Linked DNA regions of Homo sapiens: region 1 is linked to region 2. Evidence: fine-mapped expression QTL. A gene starts in region 2. The other region holds a variant in brackets. All regions are shown on one strand. Distances are between the middles of the regions.

Region 1 (5,329 bases), 35 kb after region 2:
AAGGGAGTGGGAAGGAAATGGGGTGTTTTCTTGCTGACCTGAGGCTATAGGGTCACTTGCCATTTCCTACCTTCTCTGGGGGATTTGAGGGTAGAGGCAGGGGAAGATCTGTTGTTGCAGCTGCTTCTGCCCCCTTGATCCAAATGACCATCATCTCTGATGGAGATGGGTTGGGTACCTGGCCTTCATGGCACCTTCACTGCTAGGGATGCTCAAGGGGCAGGCCTGGGGCCCTTCCCTCCTGTCTCTTCTCGGTCTTTCCTCTCTGAGCAGCCTCCTACCTCCCCTGCCTGAGCCCTCACTCCACAGCCCTCCCAGGTACCTAGCAGAGGCTGTCAGTCCTTGGCTCACCTGGAACAGGGCTGGGGCTGGGTTGGAACAGGTGTGTGCCCCCACCACAGCTCTATGACTCTGTTCTCCCTCCCTGCCATTGTGGACTCTTGTATTTGAGGGACCTCAAGAGAGTGAGGACCCTACCATCCACTGTCCATATTCAGTCCCAGCCCCAGTGCGCTTCCTCTGTTCCCTCCCTCAGCCATCCAATTCTTGAGTTTTCTCACTGATTGGTTTTCTTTCTTTTTCCTTGGATTAAATGTGAAAGCAAAGGCTTCTGGCTCTGCTTTTCTTTGGTTGGGGTTGGATGGATGGCTTTGGGAGAGAGTGAGAGCTGGGGAGCACAGCACAGATGACTACTAGAATGGAAGTCAGAGCAACATGTCTTGTTTTCTGCGATGTCTTCCTTTCCTCTGTCTTGCCCCTGCACACTCCCCCATCCCCAGAAGATGCTCCTTCTAAGTGCTTGTACCCAAGGACATGAACAGACATTTCTCAAAAGAAGACATACAAGTGACAATGTATGAAAAAGTGCTTTACGTCACTAATCATCAGAGAAATGCAAACCAAAACTACCATGAGTTACCATCTCACACCAGTCAGAATGGCTATTAAAAGGTCAAAAAATAAGAGATGCTGGTGAAGTTGCAGACAAGAGGGAGTGCTTATACACTATTGGTGGGAACGTACATTAGTTCAGCCCCCGTGGAAAGCTGTTTGGGGAGTTCTCATAGAACTACCATTCATTCCAGCAATCCCATCACTGGGCATCTACCCAAAGGAGAAGAAATCGTTCCACCAAAAAGATACCTGCACTTGTGTGACTGTCACTATGGGACTGAATGAAGGAGGATGTACGCCACTTGTGACAGTTACTACAGGACCGAACAAAAGAGGACAAATGCAGAAATGAAAACAAGACAAAAGAATCTGCTTTAAAGAAGGGGTCCTTGCTTTTGCTTCTAGTGAGCAAGGGCCCTGAGCTTCCACAGCCCTCCATATTTATTGGGTAGAAAGAGCAGGGAGGAGCAGGTAACCTTTGGTCAGCTGCTTGATTTATCACAGGTTCACATAATTGCTGACAGGCTTCATGTGTGCCTGTAGATAATCACAAACACTGCGCCTGAGGTGTGACTGCCCTCAGCATTCCTTCTGGGTGGCAGACGCAGTTTGTCAGTTTGCCAGCATTCTGCATTATGAGAACAGTTTGCTCATACAGCCTCCAGTGGTATACTGAGTTGATCATGACCCTCATTCTTTCGGCCTCCAACATCTCCCCCTTTTTGTTTTTACATTAATTGAACAAAATCTGTCCTCATGTTATGGGGGTTGATGTCAGTGTGACTCTGGTCAGTCCTCACTCTGTCTTTGCACTCAGATTCAACTGGCTCATGGCTCATACCAGGGGAACCAGGCCCATGGTTGGGATCCATGGGTCCCTCCAGTCTCCTGTTCCATGGTTGCACACACCTTGAGGGCACCCACATGGTTTGTCCATCTCCTATAAAAACATAAGCATACCCTCGTCCCCACGTTAGTAAATCTATAGGCAGTGGGAAACATATTCTGAGGTTCCTTAATGCTTTTCCTACAAAATGCTGACATGACGTAGGACTGCTGAGCATGCCTTGGGGTAAAACTTTCCATTGATAATGAGAAACAGGCTTTCTCCAATCAACAGAAGGCACAGAAAACAAATCGAGGCTTATCCTTCTCGTGTAAAGGTATAGTAAAAAAAAAAAATCTCCAAGATCCATTACTGCCAGAGGCCAGTCTCTTGCTCCCGTATCCATAAGCCCACAAAACTTTTAATTTGCACTGCACAAGTGGGTCTACTAGATGCTATTGGTTGTGATAGATAAATGTCCCTCCGAGTTGTACTTCCAAATCCTTGATTCCCTTGTTTCTTCTTTCGTGGAGAAGGGTGTAATTTGCAGGAGATAAGCAACAGTTGAGCAATATATTCTCCCAGTTCAAAACCCAAAGATCTTGTAACATTACCACTACTTGAATTTCTCCTTCATAATCCAAATTAACAACTCCTGGGACTACAGTAATGCCCTGTAAGTTAAGACAGCTTTTGCCTAAAATTAATCCCATGTATCCTGTTGGCAAAGGTCCACAAATCCCAGTGGGAATCTTCGTGGATTTGTCTCCTCCAACTAAAGTAACACATTCTTTGACTGGGA[G/T]ACCCAATCCTGTGCTTCCAGGTGTTCCTGGGGAGAGGGAATCAATGTGCCTCCGGAAACCCACCCTTGAAACGGAGTTGTGGGCTGGACTGGGGATGCCCTCATTGTTTGAGGTGCCCACATCCAGGCCCCCTTCTCATTTCCCCACAGGGGGGTGCTGTTTTGATGAAATTTTGAATGGCATTGATTAGCCCAATCATTTCCTTTATTGCAAAGGAGGGCAAAGTCCTGGTGTTTTTTTCTATTGTGCGGGAGGGAACTGTATTATAAGATCCCTTCTTTCCAGAGATCTGACGGCATTCTTTTTTGAAATGTCCAATTTTTCCACAATTATAACACTTTCCCACTTTAGGGTTTGACCCTTGGCTCCTTTTAGGTTTATCAACTACTAAACTAGCCATTGCTTGAGCCAACATTGTAGAGCGATGAAGCTCAATTCCCACATCTTGACAAGCTCTGAGAAAATTTCCTAAGCTTCTTGTACATCTCACAGGTGCCAGTGCATGCTTACAATCCACGTTTGCATTCTCAAAGCCAAAGTTAAAGTTAGTATTTCTGCAGCCACAAAAGAAGACGGTACAGGCCAATCTTCACCCTCCCTCTCCTATTCACCGCCCTTGATAGGTGCTGTGGGTGGGGCAAAAAATTCTTTCAAATTTTGAAATAATGACAAAAGGACAGTACAGACCAAACCCCAAACAGAAAAAACAGAAAGAATGGACAAATTCTGCCCCATGTTACCCTGATTCAGAAACTTCCCGCTCCCAGTACCTCTTTAGGGACCTGACCTTATATCCCAGTACTTTTTTAGGGCACTGACCTTATATCCACTGCCAGCAGACTCGTTCTGGGGTTTCTCGTTCGTCTGGCCAGTTTCACTTTCTCTGCTCCAGCGGACCCTCCTCGTTCGTGTCCCTGTCTGTCCCTGTCTGTCTCTGCTAGTCTCTACGAGTCCCTGCAAGTCCCTGCTTGTCTCTATCTGTCCCTGTCTGTCCCTATCCCTGTTCATCCCTGTTTGGGCACCACTTGTGACAGTTACTATGGGACTGAACAAAAGAGGATGAACGCAGAAATGAAAACTTAAGACAAAAGAATCTGTTTTAAAGAAGGGGTTGGGGGCTTCTTGCTTCTAGTGAGCAAGGGCCCTAAGCTTCCACAGCCCTCCATATTTATTGGGTAGAAAGAGTAGGGAAGAGCAGGTAACCATTGGTCAGCTGCTTGATTTATCACAGGTTCACATAATTGCTAACAGGCTTCAGGTGTGCCTGTAGATAATCACAAACACTGCGCCTGGGGCGTGACTGCCCTCAGCATTCCTTCTGGGTGGCAGACGCAGTTTGTCAGTTTGCCAACATTCTGCATTATGAGAACAGTTTGCTGTTTGCTCATATAGCCTCCAGTGGTATACTGGGTTGATCACGACCCTCATTCTTTTGGCCTCCAACACACTTGTATGCTTATCGTAGCACTATTCACCATAGCAAAGACATGGAATCAACTTAGGTGTCCATCAGTGGTGGGTTGGATAAAGAAAATATGGTACATATACACCATGGGATATAATGCAGCCATAAAAATAGTGAAATTGCTCCTGTACTCCCAGCACTTTGGGAGGCAAAGGCGGGTGGATCACCTGAGGTCAGGAGTTGGAGACCAGGCTGGCCAACATAGTGAAACCCTGTGTCTAGCAAAAATACAAAAATTAGCCAGGCATGGTGGTGCGTGCCTGTAGTCCCAGCTACTCAGGAGGCTGAGGCAGGAGAATTGCTTGTATTGCAACCTGGGAGGCAGAGGTTACAGTGAGCCAAGATCACGCCACTGCACTCCAGCCTGGGCGACAGAGTGAGACTCTGTCTCAAAAAAACAAAACAAAAAAAAAAAACATGTCCTTTGCAGTAACATGAATACAGCTGGAGGCCATTATCTTAAGCAAATTAACATAGAAACAGAAAATTGAATACCATATGTACTCACTTATAAGCGGGAGCCAAACATTGGGTACACATGGACATAAAGATGGCAACAATAGACACTGAGGATGATAAGAGGAGGGAGGGAGGGAAGGAAGGAGGGAGATAAGGGTTGAAAAATGACATATTGGCCGGGCACAGTGGCTCATGCCTATAATCCCAGCACTTTGTGAGGCCGAGGCGGGCAGATCACCTGAGGTCAGGAGTTCAAGACCAGCCTGGCCAACATGGTGAAACCCCGTCTCTACTAAAAATACAAAAATTAGCCAGGTGTGGTGGCATGCACCTGTAATCCCAGCTACTTGGGAGGCTGAGGCAGGACAATCACTTGAACCCGGGAGGTGGAGATTGCAGTGAGCCAAGATCGTGCCATTACACTCCAGCCTGGGGGACAGAGCAAGACTCCATCTCAAAAGAAAAGAAAAGAAAAGATAAACTACATATTGATGACATATTGGGTTCTCTGTACACTATTTGGGTGACAGGTTCAATAGAAACCCAAACCTCAGCATCACACAATATGCCTATGTAACAAACCTGCATGTGTACCCCCTAAAAATCTAAAATTAAAAAAAAAATGCCTGCACCCAGGTGTCTGCGAGCATTCATGGGGCTCGAGGACTCAGACATGCTGTGGCTAATTCACTCAGCTCCACCTGGAACTTGTGTGGCCCCCAACAGGTCCCTCTACCTCTCTGGGCTTCAGATTTATCTTCTGTAAAAGTGTCATGGACCCTCCCAGTGGTAACACTAGGATTGCTTCCAGGTACTCAGAAACAGGGGCCATAGGTGACATCAAAAGAGCACCCAAGGGCGATGTTTGGCAAATCCTTCAGG
Region 2 (5,372 bases):
ATTTATTTATAAATAAAATGAAAATAAAAATTCATCCCTATGTGTGTGATTTCTAATATGCATACTAATTAGTTGAATAACACAAATATAGTTTATAGGCAAATATTTATATAATTTTATATAGTCCATTGAAGGCTCTAATTTTTTTTTTTTTAAATACGGAGTCTCACTCTGTCGCCCAGGCTGGAGTGCAGTGGCGCAATCATGGCTCACTGCAACCTCTGCCTCCCGGCTTCAAGCGATTCTCCTGCCTCAGCCTCCCAAGTAGCTGGGATTACAGGCGCCCGGAACCACTCCCAGCTAATTTTTGTATTTTTAGTAGAGACAGGGTTTCATCATATTGGCCAGGCTGGTCTTGAACTCCCGACCTCACATGATCTGCCCACCTCGGCCTTCCAAAGTGTTGGGATTACAGGTGTGAGCCATGGCACCTCGCCCAAGTTTTTTTTTTTTTTTTTTTTTTTTTTTTTAAGTATAGTCCATAAATAAGGTTTCCAGAACTAGGCACTGGCCAGTCGCAGGTGTGGAGGCGAAGCACCTCAGAGGCTGGGTGTAGATAAACTGGGAATAGCTGTTGGTGGCCCCTGCTGGTCATTATAGGAAGTGCACCATCACTCAGTGCAAAGCCTTACCTGCTGGAAATTTGTAACACTTTTGAGTTTTATTTTTCTCTGTGCCTTGACTCCCAAAACTCTGGGCTGAACACCACCATAGGAATACCTTGATTTTGGGGGAAGGAGATATACTACCTGCACCTTTATGACCTCTGAGGCTGAGGCAGGGAGGAAGGCAGAGCTAATTACAAACCTCAGAGAAGGAGGACTCATTCCCCTCTTGAGGTAGGGGGCAGCCCTTAACTACTAGGGGATGCATTGCCGACCTTCAAACCTGCTTCCCTTCCCAGCTACTCCATTGCCAACCATTAGCAGCTCTATTCCTTTGGGGAACAGCTTAGGACACACTGCACCTTTATTATGGCATTCAGCTGTGCTACCAAGAAGCGCTTTTTGTATCTATGTAACACACTCCTTTCCGACTTCAACCCCAGACTGTGAACTCTAGGAGGTTAGGGCCCTTATCTCAGTATCACAGTAAGTGGTACCTTGCCTGGCACAGAAGAGGAGCATCCTATTCTGCATCAATAAATGTTTCTTCTCATTCTGTAACTGCACAAGGCTGTTGTGAGAATGAAACAATTTGTCAATTGTAAGGTCCTGAACAGATGTGAGAGGCTGGCATTCTGCAAGGCCTTTATTAGAGAGATACTTGTTGACCGACGAATGCAGTGGGGCAGCCGCTAAGAATAATGAGTTGGGCTCCACCTCCCCAGGTGGGCCAGAATCTGAGATCCCAGACTGTCCTGAGGATCCTAAATGGAATGGAAGATTTGATGTGGGTCGCTATGGAGGTAATAATTGCTTGATTAAGAAGTAATTAATATCTTGTAGAGATTCAAGATCCTTCCTCTTCCAAAATACAAATAGCTGAGTGATTTCCAGCCCAGAGGTGGACAGGTGACAGTGGAGGGTAGCCTTTATAATGGAAAGGGGAACTCTTCCTGAATTCAATTATAAGGATTTTCTAGGCCGGGTGCAGTGGCTCATGCCTGCAATCCCAGCACTTTGGGAGGCTGAGGTGGGCAGATCACCTGAGGTCAGGAGTTCGAGACCAGCCTGACCAACATGGAGAAACCCTGTCTCTACTAAAAATACAAAATTAGCCAGGCATGGTGGCGCATACCTGTAATCCCAGCTACTCGGGAAGCTGAGGCAGGAGAATTGCTTGAACCCGGGAGGCAGAGGTTGCGACGAGCCGAGATCATGCCATTGCACCCCAGCCTGGGCAACAAGAGCGAAACTCCGTCTCAAAAAATAAAAATAAAAAAGAAGAAGAAGAAGAAGGATTTTCTAGCTTGCAGATAGAGGAAAGAGCTGCAAGCAATGCGCTCCAAGAACCCTCTTTGTTTAGAGACCAAAGCCTGCAATTCCTGTCAAAGCTATCTGGGTTCGATGGCTTTCTTCTCTCAGTAAAAGCCTGGGTCACCTAAACAATGTGGTTTTCAGCAGTTCGGCCGCCTCTGTGGCTTTTTCCTATATCCAAACTTATACCCTTGGAACTCAGGGGAGAGCTGAGTCTTGGAACCCAGGGACCAGTCCCCTGCTTTCGGGATAGATTCCCATTTCTGAGATTTCCAAGCAAGTTTCCAGAATGTAATCCATTTCTTTTCTTTTTGTTTCTTTTGAGACAGGGTCTCACTCTGTTGCCCAGGCTGGAGTGCGGTGTTGCAATCTCGGCTCACTGCAGCCTCAGCTTCCCAAGTAGCTGGGACTACAGGCGCGCGCTACCACGCCCAGCTAATTTTGTTTATTTTATTTTTTGTAGCGATGGGGTTTCACTATGTTGCTTGGGCTAGTCTCGAACTCCTAGGCTCAACCGATGCTCCCGCCTCCGACTCCCAAAGTGTTGGGATTATGGGAGTGAGCCACCGCGCCCGGCCAAAGATGCAGTCCATTTATGATCTTAGGAATCCAGTTAGCAAGGAAAAGGGATGACTCTCACATTTTGTTCAGGGCAACTGGACGGGGTGGCTGAACGCCGAGGTCGGAGAAGTAGCGTAGCTGGCCCCAAATGCTAGTCGCACTGCACAGAGCCTCCCGTATTTGGAGGCCCAGCATCTTTTACTAGCAGATGTGGGGTGGAGCCGGAGGCTGGGCGAAGGCGGGCCAGTGGGTTTAACCCTTTATTTACTTTTTGGGCTGGGACTCTGAGGAAGGCTAGCCAGTTACTTCTTTATTCCATAGGCAGGAAAATGGACCAGGCCTCCCTCACCTAGACCTAAAAGAGGCTCTCGAATCCTTTCAGGAAGACATTTCCTCTTTTTTGCAAAATTTCTGGAAAGTCTGGAATCCGGATATCCACCCTCTGAGTCCTTAAAAAGCTGCCCCTGATCCCGAGGCCTTCTGGGGCTGGTATCCTGCTTCCTGGGAGTCTCTCTGAAGTCCTCCTATTCTTTTTCTCAATATGGAAGCAGGATAACGAGGAAAAGTGAGGCACGCCTGGAACTAGAACGCCGGTCTAAGCCAAGATGGGTGGGCGGAGTAATCAAGCCGGTCTCATTAGGCACTTTTACCATCGCCCCTTTAAGGGATCCTTGGGAGCCGAGGGGCACCAGCGGGTACTGGTACCAGTCCTGCCTCCCTAACCCTTCCCAGTGGGACTCCAGCAGGGCGTCGTGGTCTGTGCGGTGTCTCCCAAACCACTACCTGGCTGCCCCCGTACCAGCTGCTGGGAAAGACTACTTCCTCCGAGTTGTGCCGGCCTCCGCGTTCTCCTCACCTCCCCTCTCCTCCGGACCTCCGCCCCCTCGCGGAGAGGCCTTGCCGCTTTAAGAGCCGGGCTAGCGATTGACAAGCAATAAACGCTGAGCGCCCGGCTGCGCTGGAGCCGCCCGGAGCTAGGGGCTTCCCGGGGCGCAGGTAGGCGTCCCCCGGCCCCCGGGCCAGCTCCTATCCCAAGACCTCCGCCTTCTTTTCGTCCTGACACGGCACTTAGGACCCTATTCACTGGGTTTAAACTCCACAGGCCCCTTTCACCCAGGCCCGTTCCCTCCCTGTCCACCCGCCCCCGCCCCTGGGCCCTCTTTCTGGGGTGCTGGTTGGGAGAACCAAGCCCCGCTGCCCATTGACACTGGTCCCCGCCCCTGCGGTAGGGGCTCCAAAGTGGCTTCAGGCACCAAGGTGGTGAGCTGTGAGGGGCCCCGGTATCTGCGCGGCCTCCCCGGGGGCTGTGCGGGTTGGGGGTACTTAGAAGCCCGGCATTACGTAAGAACCGTGCTGTTAGCGCTTCCGGGGGTTGGGGAGCGAGACAGAGGTTGCGCTGGGTCCCGGTGGCCCCCTGGTCCCCCTAGGCAGCTAACACCACAATCTTCCCTGGGAGGGGGTCCGCAGAAGGGCGCGCGCTGCTTCTCCCGCTTCCCAAGCTGTAGCGGGGCGGGTCGGGAGCCAGGGTTAGGGTCTGGAGACTTGGGAGGGGACCGGTGCCAGAAGCGAAGAGCTAGGGTTAGAAAGTTAGGTCAATTAAGGGGGGGGCGGTGCGGATAAAGACGGGGTGGGGGTTGGCCGGGGCAGTCATTTAGTGACCTCATCCCTGGTCTCCGGCGGGCGCGCACGTAGAGAGCCTTCTTTGATGGCTCACAACACGCCCCCCTCCCCCAGGTCCTAGCGCCCAGGGTGTTAGGGCTGGGTCCGTTGGGGCAGGGGTGATCTGATGGTCCAAGCATGCACGTCCGCCTGGCCTTTCGACCCCATCCTCTGGCCCTCAGTTCTGTCCAGACCTCCCCGCGACCTCTCGCTCTCCAAAGCGCCTTTGTCAGACCTTTCTTCTCCGCACCTCTTTGTATGTGTATGGATGGAGGGATGGGTGGGAGGTTGGAAGAAACCTCTCCCTTTCACTGCTGGTCCGCTCGCCTGCGGACACTATGGGTGATGTGGATATCTCGGAGGCAGAGCTGAGAGGGCATCTGGGCCCAGGCTTTTGGAAGCCGAGGTGCAGGTTCCCAGATGTCTGGGTGCAGGACCTTGGCACGGAGCCAGGCTAGCTTGCCTGGCACTGCCGTTCTCCTGTGGACACAGCCAGGCCCCGCCCTCTCAGAGGCTTGGACGGGCGTGGGGGAGCAAAGCCAGCCGATGCTCTGGGAACCGATTCCCCGGGAGAAAACCCAGGCAGGCTGGGCAAGACTTCCGAGCGCAGGGATTTCATACAGGATCCTCCCTGCCTTTTCCCGCCCTCCACGCTCTAGGGAAGGAGGACTTCTGGAGTCCCTTCTCTGACCCTGTGAGGGAGAGCAGCGCCAGCCAGGAGAAGGCTCCAGGTCATCAAGGCCTGGGAGGGGGAGGGAAGGGATCCCTCCTCCCTGCTCTCTAGGAGTAGAGATTGGCACCAGGGGCACGGGCCAGCACAGTGGATCCTGGGCATTTCTTCCAGCCTGGGTGTAGCCTGAATAGGGGTGCCCTTCCTCTCCCTGAAAGCACCTTTATTCCATGTCCTCAGCGGCAGAGCTGGGAGGAAAGGGAACCATCCCCCTCACTTTTGTAATTTCTGTCACCTGAGCTCAGGTGACCAGCTCAGGCCTGAGAAGGGAATGGGAGCAGAGAGGGTTTTATTGAAATCAGGTACTAGTCCTCTGGGAAGAATCCTCTTTTGGGGGGAGGTGGAGTTGCCGTGGTTCCCCCACCCCCAGGACTCAGCAGGCATTCAGTCCTAAAGTGGGCACTGCCAGATGCTTCCCCCCACTCCCCACCCCTGCTGTGAGCCACTGCCTCCTGTTGTCATGGCAACTGGGAATTAGGGTTTTATCCAGCAGCACATGCCCA

Alleles and levels. Positions count from the first base shown, and alleles are read on the strand shown. Sizes are in standard deviations (SD) of each study's normalised expression.
As copies of G replace T in region 1, the expression in esophagus muscle of the gene that starts at base 3,414 in region 2 goes down (small effect, 0.30 SD a copy in GTEx).

What was found. PIP is the estimated chance that this variant, and not a neighbour inherited with it, causes the effect.
Region 1: its variant is the best candidate, but not a certain one, in a credible set for the expression of MPP2 in esophagus muscle (GTEx, PIP 0.63).

What each region holds. Positions count from the first base shown.
Region 1 is chr17:43,870,636-43,875,964 of GRCh38, reverse strand. It overlaps MPP2 (MAGUK p55 scaffold protein 2), which reads left to right. Exons shown (of 13, transcript NM_005374.5): 13 at 1-605. Among named protein-coding and RNA genes, the nearest start is that of CD300LG, 26 kb to the right of the region's middle. The variant G/T (reference allele first, on the strand shown) is at 2,523.
Region 2 is chr17:43,905,578-43,910,949 of GRCh38, reverse strand. MPP2 (MAGUK p55 scaffold protein 2) reads left to right here and starts at 3,414. Exons shown (of 13, transcript NM_005374.5): 1 at 3,414-3,476. RefSeq lists an enhancer at 3,255-3,404.